2 separate regions of the Homo sapiens genome follow, and region 1 is linked to region 2. Evidence: fine-mapped expression QTL. A gene starts in region 2. The other region holds a variant in brackets. All regions are shown on one strand. Distances are from middle to middle.

Region 1 (9,367 bases), 580 kb after region 2:
AGATACCATCTCACCCCAGTTAGAATGGTATTCATTAAAAAGTCAGGAAACAACAGGTGCTGGAGAGGATATGGAGAAATAGGAACGCTTTTACACTGTTGGTGGGAGTGTAAACTAGTTCAACCATTGTGAAAGACATTGTGGTGATTCCTCGAGGATCTAGAACTAGAATTACCATTTGACCCAGCAATCCTATTACTGGGTATATACCCAAAGGATTATAAATCATGCTACTATAAAGACACATGCACATGTATGTTTATTGCGGCACTATTAACAATAGCAAAGACTTGGAATCAACCCAAATGTCCATTAATGATGGACTGGATTAAGACATGTGACACATATACACCATGGAATACTATGCAGCCATAAAAAAGGATGAGTTCATGTCCTTTGCAGGGAGATAGAAGAAGCTGGAAACCATCATTCTCAGCAAAACTATCACAAGGACAGAAAACCAAACACCGCATGTTCTCACTCATAGATGGGAATTGAACAATGAGATCACTTGGACACAGGGCTGAGAACATCACACACTGGGGCTTGTTGAGGGGTGGAGGGCTGGGGGAGGGAGAGCATTAGGAGAAATACCTAATGTAAATGATGAGTTGATGGGTGCAGCAAACCAACATGGCACATGTATACCTATGTATCAAACCTGCACGTTGTGCACATGTACCCTAGAACTTAAGGTATAACAACAACAACAACAACAACAAACGTTTCTTCTACCAGATGTCCTCAGTCATCTCTCTCAATTTCAAAGTTCCATAAATCTGTAGGGCAGGGGCAAAATGCCACCAGTCTCTTTGCTAAAGCATAACAAGAGTGACCTTTACTTCAGTTCCCAACAAGTTGTTCATCTCCATCTCGGACCTCCTCAGCCTGGACTTCACTGTCCACGTCACTATCAGCAGTTTGGTCAAAACCATTCAACAAGTCTCTAGGCAGTTACAAACTTTCCCACATCTTCTGGTCTACTTCTGAGTCCTGCCAACTGTTCCAAACTCTGCACATTACACAGTTCCAAAGTCACTTCCACATTCTCAGGTATCTTATAGCAATACTCCATTACCTCAGTATCAAAATCTGTATTAGTCATGGTTCTCTAGAGGGATAGAACTAATAGGATATATATATATATATGAAAGGGAGTTTATTAGGGAGAATTGAATCACACCATCACAATCGAAGTCCTACAACAGGCTGTCTGCAAGTTGAGGAACAAGGAATCTAGTATTGGCTCAGTCCGAGTCCCAACACCTCAAAAGTAGGGAAACCTACAGGCCAGCTTTGAGTCTCTGGATGAAGGCCTGAGAGCCCCTGGAAAACAACTGGAGTAAGTCCAAGAGTCCAAAAGCCAAAGAACCTGGAGTCTGATATTTGAGTGCAGGAAGCATCCAGCATGGGAGAAAGATGAGGGCAGAAGGCTCAGCAAGTCAGCTTCTTCTAACCTTCTTCTGCCTGCTTTATTCTAGCCATGCTGGCAGCTGATTGTATGGTGCCCACCCACACTGAGGGTGGATCTGCCTTTCCCAGTCCACTAAATAAATGTTAATCTCCTTTGGCAACACCCTCACAGACACAACCGGGAACAATACTTTGGATCCTTCAATCTAATCAAGTTGACACTTACTGAATATTAACCTTCACAATGTAATATTCATCCAATTTGTAACTTTTCTTTAATATACAAGCTCCTTGAGAACATGCACCATTTGATCTTGTCTCTCTGTTGTGTTGGGAGGCAGTGGAGAAGAGAAGAGTTAAATGTGTGGGTGTGGAGTGAAAGACTGTCAGATTTGCATCTTGGCTCCCCTACTTATTGGATCTCTGTCCTTGAGAAAATTACTTAACATTTTTCTCAGTTTCCTTACCTGTAAATGAGTGGTGACATATATGGAACTTAGAACAAGAGCCAAGCAAGTATTCAATAAAAGCTAATGTTGTTGCCTACTGTTTATTCTCAGTGTTTGGCATAGTAGCCGGCAAAAGGAAGAGGAATTTTTTTTTCTTTTTTTCAGACAGTCTCCCTCTGTCACCCAGGCTGGAGTGCAGTGGTGTGATCTTGGCTCACTGCAACCTCTGCCTCTTGGTTTCAAGCGATTCTTGTGCCTCAGCCCCCTGAGTAGCTGGGATTACAGGCCTGTGCCACCACACCCAGCTAACGTTTTGTATTTTTAGTAGAGATGGAGCTTTGCTATTTTGGCCAGGCTGGTCTTGAACTCATGTCCTCAAGTGATCCCCCCGCTTTGGCCTCCCAAAGTGTTGGGATTATAGGCATGAGCCATTGGGCCCAGCCTGGAAATATTTTTTTGAAACATGACTGATAACAATATTTTTTGAAAGAAAGACAGATACCAATCATGAAGGAAAACATTTTCACAATTGACAATAAAAAAACTTTAACTTCTGAATGGTAAAAAGAGTGAGAAAATTAAAAGCCAAATCACAAATTGAAAAAACTAAAGTATATAAAACAAAGGTTTTCATTCTCAATTTAATGCAGAATCTTGACAAATCAAAAAGAACAAAAGGTGAACCCACCAAAAGAAATAGGCAAAAAACTTTCAAGAAAAGCAATTTACAAAATGCCAATGACGAATAAACATGGATATTTAACAACACTAGTATTCAAAGTACTTCATTTATAGAGATCCCTCCTTCACCTATCAAATTAGCAAAGATGAAAAAGGCTAGTAATACCAAGTTTTGAAGAGAGGTGAGAGGAAATGACAAGTTTATGTACCCTGGTAGGATTTGATATTGTGGCAATATGTTTCAGAACACTCATAAATGTATATACCTTTTAGATCAACAATTACACTTTTAAGCTTAAGAAAATATGAAGATTAGGTACAAATATTTCCCTATATGTTCTTCTAAGTATTATTTTTTTAATTAAAAAAATTTTTTTGAGACAGAGTCTCGCTCTGTTGCCCAGGCTGGATAGCTCACTACAGCCTCCGCCTCCTGGGTTCAAGTGATTCTTCTGCTTCAGCCTCCTGAGTAGCTGGGATTACAGATGCCCACAACCGTGCCTGGCTAAGTTTTGTATTTTTAGTGGAGACGGGGTTTCACCATGTTCGTTGGCCAGGCTGGTCTTGAACTCCTGACCTCATGTGATCCACCCTTCTTGGCCTCCCAAAGTGCTGGGATTATATGTGTGAGCCACCATGCCCGGCCAATTTTTTAATTTAAAAAAATATTTTTATAGCAGCACAACTAAGTATTATTTTAATAGTAAATATTGGAGTTAACTTTAATTTTGAACAGGATAAGTAATCATGATGCAGCACATTGAATACTCTTTCATTAAGCTAAACAACTATTAAAAATGATATACAAATACATTTACTGAAAAGAAACATGTTTGTGATATACAGTTAAGTGTAAAACAATTCAGGTTATAAGAACATATTAGGCCGGGTGCGATGGCTCATGCCTGTAATCCCAGCACTTTGGGAGG[C/T]CAAGGCAGGAGGATCACGATGTCAGGAGATCAAGACCATCCTGGCTAACACGGTGAAACCCTGGCTCTACTAAAAATACAAAAAAAAATTAGCCAGGTGCGGTGGCGGGCGCCTGTAGTCCCAACTACTTGGGAGGTTGAGGCAGGAGAATGACATGAACCCAGGAGGCAGAGCATGCAGTGAGCCGAGATTGTGCCACTGCACTCCAACCTTGGTGACAGAGCAAGACTCCGCCTCAAAAAAAAAAATAAAAGAACATATTGGTCAATATTCACTAATTTTTATAAGAATATTTGACAGAGAGAGAGGGGTAACGGAAGGGAAGGGGGAGGGGAGGGGAAGGGAAGGGAAGGGAAGAAGGGAAAAAGGGAAGGGAAGGGAATATGGGTGGATTTATATCAAAAGGTTCAGAAGGAAATGATTCTTTTCTTCTGGATGTGACTATTGCAGATTTTTTTAACTTTTCCTCTTTTTCTTATTTATTTATATTTTCTTATTTTAAGAGAAACTATAAAACTATATATATTACTTTTCAACTTAAAAATAGTTTAGTGCTTCAATAATACAGAAGACTCAAACATTGCAGATAATTAAAGCATTACTAAATGTGGAAATGTTTAGTTTCACAATTTCTGTAGTGATATTCAAGACCAGATATCACCTTGGGAATCAGAACTGGTGCAGGATCTTGTCCTAACACTACCAAAAAGGCATATGGCTGTCCCAGCTCTGTATGTTTATATTGTCTTATAATAGAGCAACCAGTTGTTTATTAGGATGGCCAAAAAGGCACATTTCAAAAATGCCTATTAAAATATTAGTAGTACAAATAATACTGCTGCTTAATTTTTTCTAATGAGAACTGATAAAATTCAAAAGCAACATAAGCATATAAATAGTAATAATATGGTGTATCAAATTAATTGTCACATGATTATTAAAGTGAGATCATGTGTGTTAAGTAGTGGTATCTTAAGCCACTGAAATATCTTCCTTGGTCTGGAATGAGCTTTCTATGGAGATTAAAAAGATGTTAAATTGAACAGTCTTGGTTAATAAATGAAGAAGCAAAGCCAGAAACCCTGTTTAAAGAACTAACAAAAAAGGTCATGAATGATCTGGTGGTTGTTATATTTTCTTGTTTACCCGAGAAGAAGACTATGCTCAAGCATGTATTGAATCCAGTGATAGCCAGAATGTCATCCATACTGCTAGCAGCCATTAGTAGGTTGGAATGTCTTCCTCAACACCATATCCATTTTCTTGCAACACCATCATGTAAAGGACAACAACAACAGGAGAGACAGCACCTAAAACAAAACTGAGAGAATGAAAATTAATTTAAAAGCATCTTTTTAATCAAGTAGTGTTTATAAGTACAAGTAGTTTATAATAAATTTATAACAAACATTGTTTAGAAGAATTTCAAATTTGAGTGAATGCAATTTAATGGTGATAAAACTTTTCATGCATGGTTTAGTGTTAGCTAAAATTTTATACAGACGTGGTTTAAAATGTTGGCCTGAGCACAGGTTGCAGCCTTTCCCTCTATTCCTAAATCCTTTGAAATGAAGATGTAAAGGTAATAGAAAAATTCATAACCTAACAAGAAAGCAAAAGGTGAATCATCAATGGACAAGAAACTAAGCATATGCCAGAAAGATAAGAGACAGACAATTTAGGATTGAAAAAAGGAAACCATAAACCAAAATGTGTGTAAATAAGATTGCCTCAAAAGATACATGTGCTTCTAAAAGTGGTCCAAGCCCTGAAATGACAGGTGCTGGGAGCAGGAGAGACCTCTGGGGAAACCAAATAGTTGATTATTTGGAGTACCACTGTAAGAATGGTCAGACAAATCTACCTTCCACACATTTCCTACCTCTCGAGTAAATAAGTAAGTAAGGAAGGAAGGAACAGAGTTGTCTGCCCAAAAAAACAAGTGTGGCCACCTAAGTTACAAAGGCAAATGAGAACATTTCTGGAGTGGTTGATGACACCCATGAGGAATGGGGAGGCTCCTGCTCAGAATACCTTCTATTGGCATATCTTATCCAGAATTTCACCCCATCTCTTCTACATTTACTTTATAAAGCGTGAAGTATATCCTGTGTAGAAATGCCTTTGGTGCTCCTGCCAGAATCCATTTACCAGGTCAATGAACACATCTCCCAGTGCTTCTTGTTGGCTGCTATTACCTGCAGGTTTCTAGAACCCTTGTCCTGCTGACAAGCACCTACTTGGGAATACTAGGGAGGTTGTGCACCCCTCTATTTTCCCTCCAGACAGCATCTGCCAATGACGGACTGATGTGAGATTTGCTTCTGGCTGTACAACTCTATGGTGCAGTTTATGCTACAGATTTCCCTGTGGGCTCAAGAAGAGACTAGACTTCTCTAAGACCACATACTGGTCTAGTTCAGTGGTTCCTGAGCTCTGCTGCACATTGTAATCACTTGTTGTATTATTTTTCTCATTTTGCTTAACAAGTCATCCCCAAACATAGCAGCTTAAAACAACAAATATTTATTGTCTTATGACTTCTGTGGGTCAGGAATCTGGGCATGGCTTAGCTGTATGCCTTGACTTAAGATTTCCCATGAGGTAGGGTGGGGTGGAGAAGATCTGCTTCCAAGTTTACTCATGTAGCCATTGCAGGCTTCAGTTTTTTCCAACGGGGTTTTCTCCACAGGGCTGCCTCAGGACATGGCAGCTGGCTTCCCCAGGAATAAGTGATCAAAGAGAATTTAATCCACAACATCAATTACAAACACAAAGTGTCTAAGAACAAAACTGTGAAGACAGTCTATACTTTTATAAAAATTGTGAATCTAATAATATAGTAATTAAGATAATACCTGAATACTTAGAGAGACATTTCACAAGTGTGAACTAAAAAGCCCCAATTTTACCATCACCCAACACCACGCCTGGCTAGTTTTTGTGTTTTTAGTAGATACAGTGTTTCACCATTTTGGCCAGGCTGGTCTTGAACTCCTGACCTCAAGTGATATGCCTGCCTTGGCCTCCCAAACTGCTGGGATTATAGGTGTGAGCCACCACGCCTGGCCAAAGCCTCAATAATATAAAGATGTAATCTCTCCCCCAAATGAATTAATCAGAGATACACCAATCAAAATCTTTGCAGGGATTTTTACTGAGCTTGACAAGCTGATTATAAAATTCATTTGGAAGAATAAGATCTTAGAATGAAAGATCAAGTAAACTTAAGAAAACAAGATACTGTTTTTGTAAAGGTAAAATAGTTAAAACTGAATAATAGTGACATATAAATAGACAAAATAAATTGGAAGAAAAGAGAATACAAAGTGTGGAAACAAATCTATGGGATTTGTTACATCATACAATTTGTATTTTAAATCGGTGGGAGAAAGAAAGAAATCTTTCACAAACGGTGCTGAGATAACTATTTATGTGGAAAGGAATATAGATCGATCCTTAAACATAATAAATGTTAAAAGCTCAAAAGGAAAAGTAGTAATAAGAAAATGTAGTGGGCTAGGCATGATGGCTCACACCTGTAATCCCAGCACTTTGGGAGGCTGAGGTGGACAGATCAGGAATCTGAGACCAGCCTGGCCAACATGGTGAAACCAATAGCTGGGTGCAGTGGTGCATGCTTGTAGTCCCAGCTACTTGGGAGGTTGAGGCAGGAGAATGACTTGAACCTGGGAGGTGGAGGTTGCAGTAAGCTGAGGTCATGCCACTGCACTACAGCCTGGGTGACAGCAAGACTCTGAACAACAACAAAAAAAGATGTAGAATAATATATTTGTGATCATGAGGTAAAAAGGACCTTTTGAATGATACATACAAAGGCATTAGACATAAAAAGAGATTTTGATACATTCAATTATATTAAAGTAGTACTTCAAAAGTACTATAATAAAGTACTACTTCAAAAGCAATTCTGCTCTTTCTTCCCCTTTTACTCTTTTTCATTTTCAAAGTCAAGTGAACAGTGCTGTGTATTGGCAATTCTGTCTGTTGAAAATAACAAAATACACTTCTTAGAGTGAAAAAAAATCATCACAAACAAAATTAAATATCTACTGATATTTGCAATACATATAATTTACAAATGCATATAACAGATATAATTAATAAAGAAGATCAACTCAACAAAAAAATGGACAAAGGATATGAACAGGCTAGTTACAGATAAGGAAAAGCTGAAGGACAACACATATATAAAAGATATTCAAGCTTGTGAATAATCACAGAAATGCAAATTAAAATAACAAAAATATGCCATTTTTTCAATTATCAGACTGGAAAACATTATAAAATTTAATAATATCAAAGATTTGCAAGGATTTTCAAGAACATCAGGTAGGCTCATAAGCTATTGGTATTGGGGCAAATTAAAGTGGCCATACTGAAAGGATTTTGGCAGTATACATCAAACTAAAAATGCATGTAACCCAGGTAACTATTCTAGACAAACTTATATTTATGTAAAATGAGACAAATAAAATGCTATTTTTGTTATAACATTGTAAATAAAATCTGCTGTTGACATACAATGTAATCTTATACAATTAAAAGGAATAAACTACATATGTATCTATCTTGAGATGGATAAACTTCAAGACTATTGTTGAATGAAAAGAACAAATTGTAAAGTAAAATTTTCTTGGGTATGATTAAGTAAAAGTGCACAAAATAATACTCTTTTTTTCTCTGGGTTCACAAATACATTTGTTAGAAGTCCAGAACATTATTTTTAAAGATCTAGAATGATAACATAAAACTCATGAAGATGCTGCCACTCTGTCTCCAGCAGCACATGAGTGCTCCCCACAGCACCATTGCCCCGGCTGGCACGTGTAAGTATGCAGAACACCCCATCCCACTCCTGCCGGCACTGCACCCCTGCCAACACAAGCATACCTGCTCTGTGCTGCTGCTGCTGGCACATATGTGTGAGTGGGGACCTTGCTACAATCACTACAATGAAGCACTTTGGCTGACACACCCCATCAGAGTGTTGTTGCCAGTGGACTGGGAACACCTCAGTGCTTAACACTGAAGGGCCAGACAACAAAACTGTGGGTATGGTACCAGCCTTGCAAAGTTAGAGCATGCAGTTCAGGAGTGCTGAGCTGAGCCTTTGTCCCCTGAAATCTTCCAGAAATGAATCCATTTGACTGAAACTACCTTGTGCCACAGTCAAACCCTCAAGGGCATTAAAGAATATAAAAAAGGAAAAAACTCCATCCAAAGGACAGTGATTCAAAACATTAAAGGAACTTTAGCCCACACAGATGTGAAAGAACCAGTGCAAGAACTCTGGCAATGTAAAAAGCCAGAATGTCTTCCTGTCTTCAAGCAATCATACTAACTCTCCAACAATGGTTGTTAACCAGGATTAAATGACAGAATCTGGATAGAAACAAAGATCATTGAGATTCAGAAGAAAGTCAAAATCCAATCCAAATAATGTAAGGAATCCAATAAGATGACATAAGAGCTGAAAGATGAAATAGGCATTTTAAGAAAGAACCAAACTAAACTGATAGAGCTGAAAAATGCACCTCAAGAATTTCATAATACAATAACAAGTACTAACAGCAGAACGGACCAAGCTGAGGAAAGAATCTCAGATCTCAAAGACCACTTCTTTGAATCAACTCAGTCAGATGAAAATAAAGAACAAAAAAGAATGAACAAAACCTCTGAGAAATCTGAGATTATGTAAAGAGACCAAACATATGACTCAAGACATCACTCAAAGAAAGGGAGAAAGAACAAGCAAGTTGGAAAACGTATTTGAGGATACTGCCCAAAAAATTTCCCAAATCTTGCTAGAGAAGTCACCATTTGAATCCAGGAAATGCAGAGAATCCTGTGAGATACTATACAAGATGACC
Region 2 (9,367 bases):
AAGATGCAATCAAATTTTGAAGAGCCAAGAGGAAATCTACTACAACAACAAAAGTAATAGCTTCACTATGATCACAGAGATGATCAATGATCTAAATGCCTCACCTATTTTCAGCAGAGCCATGGATACAAGTAATCACAAGGCAGAAGATATTTTCCCTTTGCTTCTGAACTGCTTTTGGTGGCAATGATACAAATACAAATTGTGGTTGATGTTTGCATAAGGGCACAGACATGCTTGGTCCAAGCTGAAGTAAAGATTCCAAGTTGTGGACCGTCCTGCCCACATTCTGCATCATGATGTCAAAATAGCATCTGATGTTCTTTGCATTTTCATTGAAGTAATTATCACAAAATTGTTCTCTTACTTCAGCATTTACACTATTAGAATTGAGTGATTAAAGGATTGTGTGATTTTTTTTTTGGCATTCGATATTCTTCATTTCCTTTGCAGTTAGAAACTCATTGGCTCCTGTAACTAACACAGTTGATAAAGTTGTTAGTTTACGTAAAGTCTTGAAATAATAATTTTAATTTTCAAGAAAAGACTCCAAAATTTTTGTTTACTTTAAAAATACTCCATTGAGTGAAGTTTACTTGTTTTTTATTCATAGTTTTTTTTTTTCACTAGGAAACAAATATTTTATTCCTTTTTTCTGTTGCTCAGAGGACAGATCGTGATACAGAAAACAGCAGTCTAGCCACAGAGGCTGGGTTTGGTTGATTTCCACAGGCACATGGAGGACAGGAATGGTGGGATCCGGTTTGAGCTCCCAGTCTCATTATGACTTTTGACCTCTTCCTGTACCCTCTGCAGCAGTGCAGCATGGAGCCTACTGGGTCTCTAACCTACTTAACTCACCTCTGTGACCACTGAGGATGCGGGAGTTGTCTCTGCTGACCAAGGGGACATGGGCAGAGAAGCAAAGGCCCCTTACTCTCCCTCTGTCCATTCCAGTGTGCTGGCCGCAACAGAATGGGAATCCTTCAGTCATCACCTGCTGGAGACTCAGCTTCAGGGATGGGAGCCTGTGTCCAGAAAAACTGGGCTATAGATTGAAGTCTCAGAAGCAGGAAGGTTGGAGATGGGTGGGGCACCAGAGCCCCTGTGGTTATTGCTGATAAGATATGCAGGGGCTACATTCCCCAAGTGTAGATTATTAGTCCTGGGCCCAGGCTGGGCACGGTGGCTGACACCTGTAATCCCAGAATTTTGGGAGGCCTAGGCAGGTGGATTGCTTGAGGCCAGGGAAAACCCCATCTCTACTAAAAATACAAAAATTAGCTGGGCATGGTGGTGCGTGCCTATAGTCCCAGCTACTCGGGAGGCCCAGGCATGAGAATCCCTTGAACCCATGTTGCCATGAGCTGAGATCGTGCCACTGCATTCCGGCTTGGGTGACACAGTGGGACTCTGTCTGAATAAAGAAAAAGAAAAAAAGCAGCAGCCCTGGGCCTGGAATCCCTGGGTGCTATGTGAAAGGCAGGGCAGATGGGGCTCCCTGGGGCTTCCCCAGGGAGAAAAATAACCATGGAAGGGTATAGTAGCCTCCTGAAGGTAATGCCGGGCTCACAAACTCCTTGCTTTGCTTTGTATCTCCAATTGCTGATCTTCAGAACAGACGGGTTGGAGTGGGATAAGGAAGTGAGGTTCTTGTAAAAGAAGTGAAGAGACTCCATGAAGAAAGATGAGGAAAGTGGTGCAAACCTTCCCAGGTCCCAAGACAGCTGGAGACTCCTGCCCATGCTCTAAAGGGAAGGAGCTAGACTCTCCAGGGAAAAAAGCAGACTCCCAGGAGTGAGAGGTGATGGGGGGCAGAGAGGAGCAGACGGCCACATGGCTCAGCCCCTGCCCAGGAAAGTGAGTCCACAGTTCACTAACTATAATCACCATGAACAAGTAGCCATGAACACTATAGTCAGCAAACACACACACAGACACATAACACGAGTTGGAGGAGCCTGCAGGCTGCAGTGGTGAGGCAAGAGATTAGTTGGATCATCAGGTGGAGGAATGGTGTTAGAGGGGACAGGGAAGGGCATGGCAGGACAAAAAAGTTCTTGGCTTCTCTTCTGGAAAGATTTGTTGCTGAAGTGGCTGTTTTCTTAAGCATCAATATTTGCATCTAAAAGTTCAAGCAGCTGCCTTCAGGTTCCGGAGGCTTCCCACTGGAGGGCTGCACTTCATTCAGCTCTCTGCTTTCTGGAGTTTTGCTGCATTTGCAGTGATGAGGTTCTCCACCTGGGCTTCCTCCTCCCCTGGGGTCCCGGGCTTCTGATTGAAACTCCACTTGCATCTGCAACCTAGGATAAGGAAGATCCCAACGGAGAAGAGGACCACAGCACATACCAACCCCTGAATCCTCAGGGTCTGTTAGTCATAATGAAAATGGTCAATTTCCTTCTCCTACTCAGCTGCACTGGCCATGACAATGAGGGCCAACAGGCTGCATAGGAATATCAGCACCACCTCCATGGTGCCTGCACAGCCAGTCCCCTTCCTGAGATGATCCCAGGAGGATGTGTCGAGTCCCAAGGAGCCTAAGAGTGGCATGTCCCTAGTTTTCAATCTCTTTAGGGATAGGATTATGCAAATTGAAAGAAGAGCAAACAATGTTACTGAAATAATCCATGGCATAATGGAACCTGAATGCATTAAAGAAATAATGGAGGGCAGGAGAGGTGGCTCACATCTGTAATCTCAGCACTTTGGCAGGCTGAGGCGGATGGATCAATTGAGGTCAGGAGTTTGAGACCAGCCTGGTCAATATGGTGAAACCTAGTCTCTACTAAAAACAGGAAAAATTAGCTGGGCGTGGTGGCATGTGCCTGTAATCCCAGCTACTGGGGAGGCTGAGGCAGGAGAATCACTTGAATCTGGGAGGCGGAGGTTGCAGTGACCCGAGGTCTTGGCACTGCACTGCAGCCCAGGTGACAGAATGAGATCCAGTCTAAAAAAAAAAAAAAAAAGAAATAATGGAATATTCACAAGTGTCAAGACTGTTTCTTAAAATGCAAAAGCATTAGGCTGGGTGCAGTGGCTCATGCCTGTAATCCCAGCACTTTGGGAGGCCGAAGCGGGCGGATCACGAGGTCAGGAGTTCGAGACCAGCCTGGCCAACACAGTGAAACCCGATCTCTACTAAAATTACAAAAATTAGCCGGGTGTGGTGGCACAAGCCTGTAGTCCCAGCTACTTGGGACGCTGAGGCAGGAGAGTCGCTTGAACCCAGGAGGCGGAGGTTGCGGTGAGCCGAGATCATGTCACTGCACTCCAGCCTGGGTTACAGAGCCAGACTCCATCTCAAAAAAAAAAAAAAAAAAAAAAAACATTATGAGCAGGAAAATAAATTGTGTCTCGAAGTGATAATCATTGTTGTACTTACCATGACTGTCTTCTGAAATGCATCTCAACCCTTGAATAATTTGATTCTTTTACATGGATGGTACTAAATGCTTTTCCAGCATGGGAACAAGTGGGATTATCATCAGTGGTGGTAAAGAAGGGAATAGAAATGGAGAAAAATGCTTCTTTTTTGGTCAGTGGACATTTATTTTTTATTTTTATTTTAACTTAAACTTCAATAGCTTTTGGAGTACAAGTGGTTTTTGGTTATGGATGAATTATAAAGTGGTGGATTCTGAGATTTTAGTGCACCTGTCACCTGAGTAGTGTACACTGTACCTAATGTATAGTTTTTTTTTTTTCATTTTTGAGATGGAGTTTTGCTCTTGTTGCCCAAGCTGAAGTGCAATGGCGCGATTTCAGCTCACTACAACCTCCACCTCTCGAGTTCAAGGGATTCCCCTGCCTCAGCCTCCCAAATAGCTGGGACTGCAGGTGTGTGCCACCACGCCCAGCTAATTTTGTAGTTTTAGTGGAGACGGGGTTTCACCGTGTTACCTAGGCTGGTCTTGAACTCCTGACTTCGTGATCCACCCGCCTCCGCCTCCCAAAGTGCTGAGACTACAGGCGTGAGCCACCGCGCCTGGCCATGTGTAGTTTTTTTAACCTCCGGCCTCCTTCCTACCAGCCCCTTCTGAGTCTCTAAAGTCCATTATATCACTCTGTATGCCTCTGCGTACTCATAGCTTAGCTCCCACTTATAAGTGAGAACCTACGGTTTTTGGTTTTCCACTCCTGTATTACCTCTGCCTGTGAACTTTAAAAAGTTATCGTGATCAAGAGATCCTGCATACTCCTGAAGAATGGAAAATGCATGTTTGCCATGCAAGATGGTATTACGTGGTTTAACAAATAAAATTTGAAGAGCAATTCCGAGTTATCTTTACGACAGCTTACAGGCTGGTAATGCTCATGTCCAGCGTGTTTTCTCACGGTTAGCGTCCAATGGACCAGAAAGGAGCAAGTGAAGCTCTCCACACTGGCGCAAGTGTAGGTGGTGCTGCGGCAGCGTCGCGGGGCCACAGGAACCGACCTCGTCTGGAGAAATTCCACTCGTGAATTCTGCCAAATGAGGAAGTGTTGAGGACGGCCAAATCATCAGGGGGATGTAATTCATGAGAAAGCTGTGTAATTTAAATACTCATAATTTATTTCAGCTAACGAATAAAACTGCAGTACTGCACTTGCCGCATCTGGGAACTAACTGCCCAATGCGGCTGAAACCTCATGCCCTTTCAAAAGGAGTGGCGCGAGGGCTTGTGGGAAATGTAGTCTGCACTTTCTAAGGGAGCGGCGCGAGGGCTTGTGGGAAATGAAGCGTGCACTTTCTAAGGGAGCGGCGCGAGGACTTGTGGGAGATGTAGTGTGCACTTTTCGGCCCCCGTCGCGGGAGCCGCTTCGGGCCTTCTGGGCATGTCTGCCATATGGCTCCAGGTTTGTTTTTCTCCCCGGCACTCTGACGGGGAGGGCTCCCGGCATCTCCTGGCGTCCGGGTAGAGGACGCGGAGGGTGAGTAAGGGAGGGCAGGGGCGAGGGTGGACTGGGGGTTCCGCGCGGCCTGGGGGTGGGAGAGAGGGAACGCCTTTGCCGCCTGGCCTGGGTCCGAATCCTGCCTCGGTTCTTGTGCTCCCAAAGGGAATGCGCAAGTCCCGCGCCTGTGACAAGTGAGGTTGGATTTTCTCTTCCCTGAGGTGAAGGATGCCCGGAGGCCTCCGCAGGACGGCGCAGAAACGGGCCTTCTGCCCAATAGATGCGCGCTTCTCTCATTCTTTCCCCTCAGAATCTCGCTGTCCTCACAACCACCTGTGGTCGGCGTCGCCGCGGTGTCACTGCGATGCCGAGGCGAATGGGGTGGGGGGAAGCGCCCGCGGGGCGGGGAGGGACCCTGCAGGCGCGGACTCCACACCCAGCCTCTGGCCAGCGTCACTCGGCTTGCTGTGTCCTCGCAGGTCGCAGCTTCATTGCCTGATGTCTTCGGGAAGTATTTTGAAGTCATCGTGGCTGTGGATTGGGGAATTTCTTGTTTCCACTGACCTGTGAGGCCGCGCACGCGGAGGGAGGCACCCCAGGCCCTCCGGCACTGTCCAGCCTCGCCTGTGTCCCCATTAGCACCAGTGGGCATTTTCAGAGGGTCCAGCTCATGGCTCAAGTGACAGGAAGATGTAGGAGCTTTCTGTCTTGAATGAGGATTCGAACCAAAGGGCTTAGGCCCAGCTGTCTTGGAGCAAAGCAGCTGTTGTGGGGTAAGAAGGGAAGGGTGGGGGGCGAGGGCCCAGGGGCCCTCCTAGGAGGACACCCAACCCGTTGGGCTGACACCTCACTAGAGATCTAGAGCACGGGTGGGAGGAGCAGAGGCTCGATTTGTGTCCTTTCCAGACCCCCACAGGCTGGGAGCTTTGTGCCCATTCAGATGTGGGGGCAGAAGAGGGCAAGGCCGAAGGAGCAGACAGCACCGCTTCTTGGGGAGTTGTGAAGGCATCATGCGGAGGGAAGAGCTTAGCAGCCAAGTGGAGGACAGCACCCTCCATGCCTGGATTCGTTACTCGCTCGTTCTAGATGCTGAGCTGCTGGCGCACTGCAGCACAACTAGAGATGTACGGATGCCCCCATCTTGATCTTACAGAATCAGAGGTACAGCCGCGAGAAAGGTCTGTAAGTTATCTATTTACGCTTTATTTAAAAGATGGGATGGGGTGGGGTGGACAGGAAACGAGCTTAACGTGTTAAGTTACTGATGACATTGACACATTTTGTTGTGGCAGAGTCAAGAACAGACAGAGTCGCTTGAGGACTCAGGAGGGTGTTTGCTGCGTTGACAACAGAGTAAGTAAAAATCAGTTTGCTTTTTTAAATCCAAAGATTGTTTTGAGAACCTCAAATCAAGTTAGAGCAAGTTCGTTTTCCTTCCAAAAAAACTGGGCTGGGCTGGGCACGGTGGTTCACGCCAGTAATCCCAGCACTTTGGGAGGCTGAGGGGGGTGGATCAAGAGGTCAGGAGTTCGAGACCAGCCTGGCCAACATGGTGAAACCCCGTCTCTACTAAAAATGCAAAAAATTAGCCGGGTGTGGTGGTGCGCACCTGTAGTCCCAGCGACTTGGGAGGCTGAGGCAGGAGGTTGCGGTGAGTCGAGATCATGCCATCGCACTCCAGCCTGGGCAACAAACAGGGCAGGACTCTGTCTCAAAAAAGCAAACAAACAAACAAAAAAAACTGGGCTGAAAAATACCACATCGCTTTTTTCAAAACCTTGTTGGGATTCTCTGGTTTGTAATAAAGATTAAAACCTGAGTATTTTTGTTTAGCATCAGTTTTAATGAAAGTATTATGTTCCACTCTTTGGCTTTTCCTAACTTGCTTAATTAGTTTAATATATCGGTTTGCATACTCTGTTAGAGTACAGCATAAATTGTTTTTAAGTCAGTAGAAAACAAACGTTTTTACATTTGAAAACTAATGAGTCCAAGCAGTACATAATCATGCCAGAGTCATGCATGGGCGTGTGAGTATCTCCCTTTCAGAGATGTTTTGCCGGCTGCGAAGTGGACCTTTTAAGGCAAGTGACATCACTCATGATCTTTTCTTATTTCTCAGCTACACCCTCACAGTTTGCTCTGCTCTTCCAACACCAGTGGAAGATGATCACATCCCAGGTAAGTTGTTTATTTTTTCACCGTTTTGCTTAAAAGTAATTATTGAGGTTTAAAAAATGTCTATACATTCATATGAAAGTAGAAATAACATCAGGGAAAATATAGAGGAGAGGTCACATTACATTTCATGGGTCAAATGCAGCCTGCCGCATGTTTTTTTATGGTCCACAAACGAAGGATGGTTTTTATATTTTTAGGTGGCTGAGGGAAAAAAAACAAGAATTATATGAAATTCAGATTTCATTATATATAAAGTTTTATTGGGACTCAGCTATACTCATGTATTTATGTGTTGTCTGTTGGTACTTTCATACTATGAGGGCAGAGTTGACTGGTTGCAGCAGAGACTGTAATGGCCCACAAGCCTAAAATATTTACTGTGAGACCCTTTACAGAAAATGTTTGCTGATTTCTGATAAAGAGTTGATGAAGAGTAAAACAAAAATGTCATGTAAGTGAATGCAGATCTTGTGATCTCACAGAGTTGTGAAACTGGAACATAAAACAGTTTGTCAATGGGCTTTATTAGGTGACACTGTGAAACTTCTGATGACAATCTTGCAGTTACATGAAAAAGTAGTACAACGAAGTGAATAATTCATGTGCAGTCCAGGGGAAAACTTAAGCGATATCAAGAGAAAGTATGTGATTAAAAAATTCAAATAGGCCGGGCTAGGTGGCTCATGCCTATAATCCCAACACTTTGGGAGGGCGAGGTGGGTGGATCATGAGGTCAGGAGTCCGAGACCAGCCTGACCAACATGGTGAAACCCCGTCTCTACTAAAAATACAAAAATTAGCTTGGCATGTTGGCGTGCACCTGTAATCCCAGCTAGTCAGGAGGCTGAGGCAGGAGAATCGCTTGAACCCAGGAGGCGGAGGGTGCAGTGAGCCGAGATTGAGATTGCACCACTGCACTCCAGCCTGGGTGACAGAGTGAGACTCTGTCTCAAAAAAAAAAAAAAAAAAAAAAAAAAAAAAATCACATGAATTGTGTAGCATTAGGACTTATGGTTGTTTAAAGAAACAGTCCTGGTAGGCTAGGGTGATCATGGGTTGTTAGGATGTGGCAGGCTTTGTGACAGCCCTAGAGACTGGGCAGAACTGGAATATTTGCAATAACTTTCAAGAGATTCTACCTAAAAAAAAAATTATGGTAAAATACACATCACATGAAATTCACAATTAAGCCATTTTAAAGTATAGAATTCAATGACTTTAGTACGTTCACAATGTTGTACCACCATAACCACCATTTATTTCTGGAATATTTTCATCACACCAAAAGGAAACATAGTACCCTTAATAAGCAGTGTTGTAACTTAATAAGCAGTTGCTCCCTTTTTCCCCTCTGCTCCAGCCCCTAGCAACCAATAATCTCCTGTCTTTATAGATATGCCTGTTTTAGATATGGCATACAAATGGAATCATACAATTTGTAGCCTTTTGTGTCTGATCTCTCACTTAGAATAATGTTTTCAAGACCCATTTATGTTGTAGTTGTATATCAGTACTTTGTCCCTTTTTATGACTGAACAATATTCTATTATATGGATATACCAACTTTTGTTTATCCATTCATCTGTTGATGGACATTGGGGGTCATCCTGTGTTTCGCTATCGTGAATAGTGCTCCTATGAGCATTCATGTACAAATATTTGTTAGAATACATGCTCTCAGTTGTTCTGGGTATATACCTACGAGTGAAATTGCTGGGTCATATGGTAAGTTTACGTTTAATTTATTGTGAAACTGACAGTTTTCCACAGCAGGGTGCTTTGCAATCCATAGGAATTTTTAGTTAGCTTTTCTATTTCTGCAAAAAAGTATGTTGAGTTTTTGATAAGTATTGCATTGGGTAAGTATTGGAGTGGGTAATAACACTTTGGGGAGTGTTATCATCTTAATATTAAATCTTATAATCCATGAATGTAAGATTTTTTTCCCCTAGGTCTTCTTTCCTTCATTAATGTTTTGTAGTTTTCAGTGTACAAGTGTTGCATATCCTTGCTTAAATTTATTAGTTTTTCATTTAAATGCTATTGTAAATTATATGAAATTCAGACTTCAGTGTCTATAAAGTTTTATTGAGACTCAGCCATACTCATGTATTTATGTATAGTCTGTGGGTACTTTCACACTACGAGGGCAGAATTGACTGGTTGCAGTAGAGACTGTAATGGCCCATAAGCCTAAAATTTTTTTGTTTAAATGCTATTATAAGTGGAATTGTTAATTTGCTTTTTGACTGTGCACAACTAATTTTTGAGTGTTGATCTTGTATCCTGTAATTTTGCTGAATTTGTTTCC

Direction of the effects. Positions count from the first base shown, and alleles are read on the strand shown. Sizes are in standard deviations (SD) of each study's normalised expression.
As copies of T replace C in region 1, the expression in lymphoblastoid cells of the gene that starts at base 4,761 in region 2 goes down (moderate effect, 0.73 SD a copy in GTEx).

Evidence for each region.
Region 1: its variant is fine-mapped to the expression of ZNF37A in lymphoblastoid cells (GTEx, PIP 0.93).

The regions. Positions count from the first base shown.
Region 1 is chr10:38,667,286-38,676,652 of GRCh38, forward strand. It overlaps the pseudogene SLC9B1P3. Among named protein-coding and RNA genes, the nearest start is that of LINC00999, 240 kb to the left of the region's middle. The variant C/T (reference allele first, on the strand shown) is at 3,473.
Region 2 is chr10:38,089,577-38,098,943 of GRCh38, forward strand. ZNF37A (zinc finger protein 37A) reads left to right here and starts at 4,761. Exons shown (of 8, transcript NM_001324250.3): 1 at 4,761-4,914; 2 at 5,355-5,648; 3 at 5,962-6,053; 4 at 6,168-6,228; 5 at 6,998-7,056. The coding sequence starts at 7,042. It also overlaps the pseudogene FXYD6P2. RefSeq lists an enhancer at 4,715-4,904.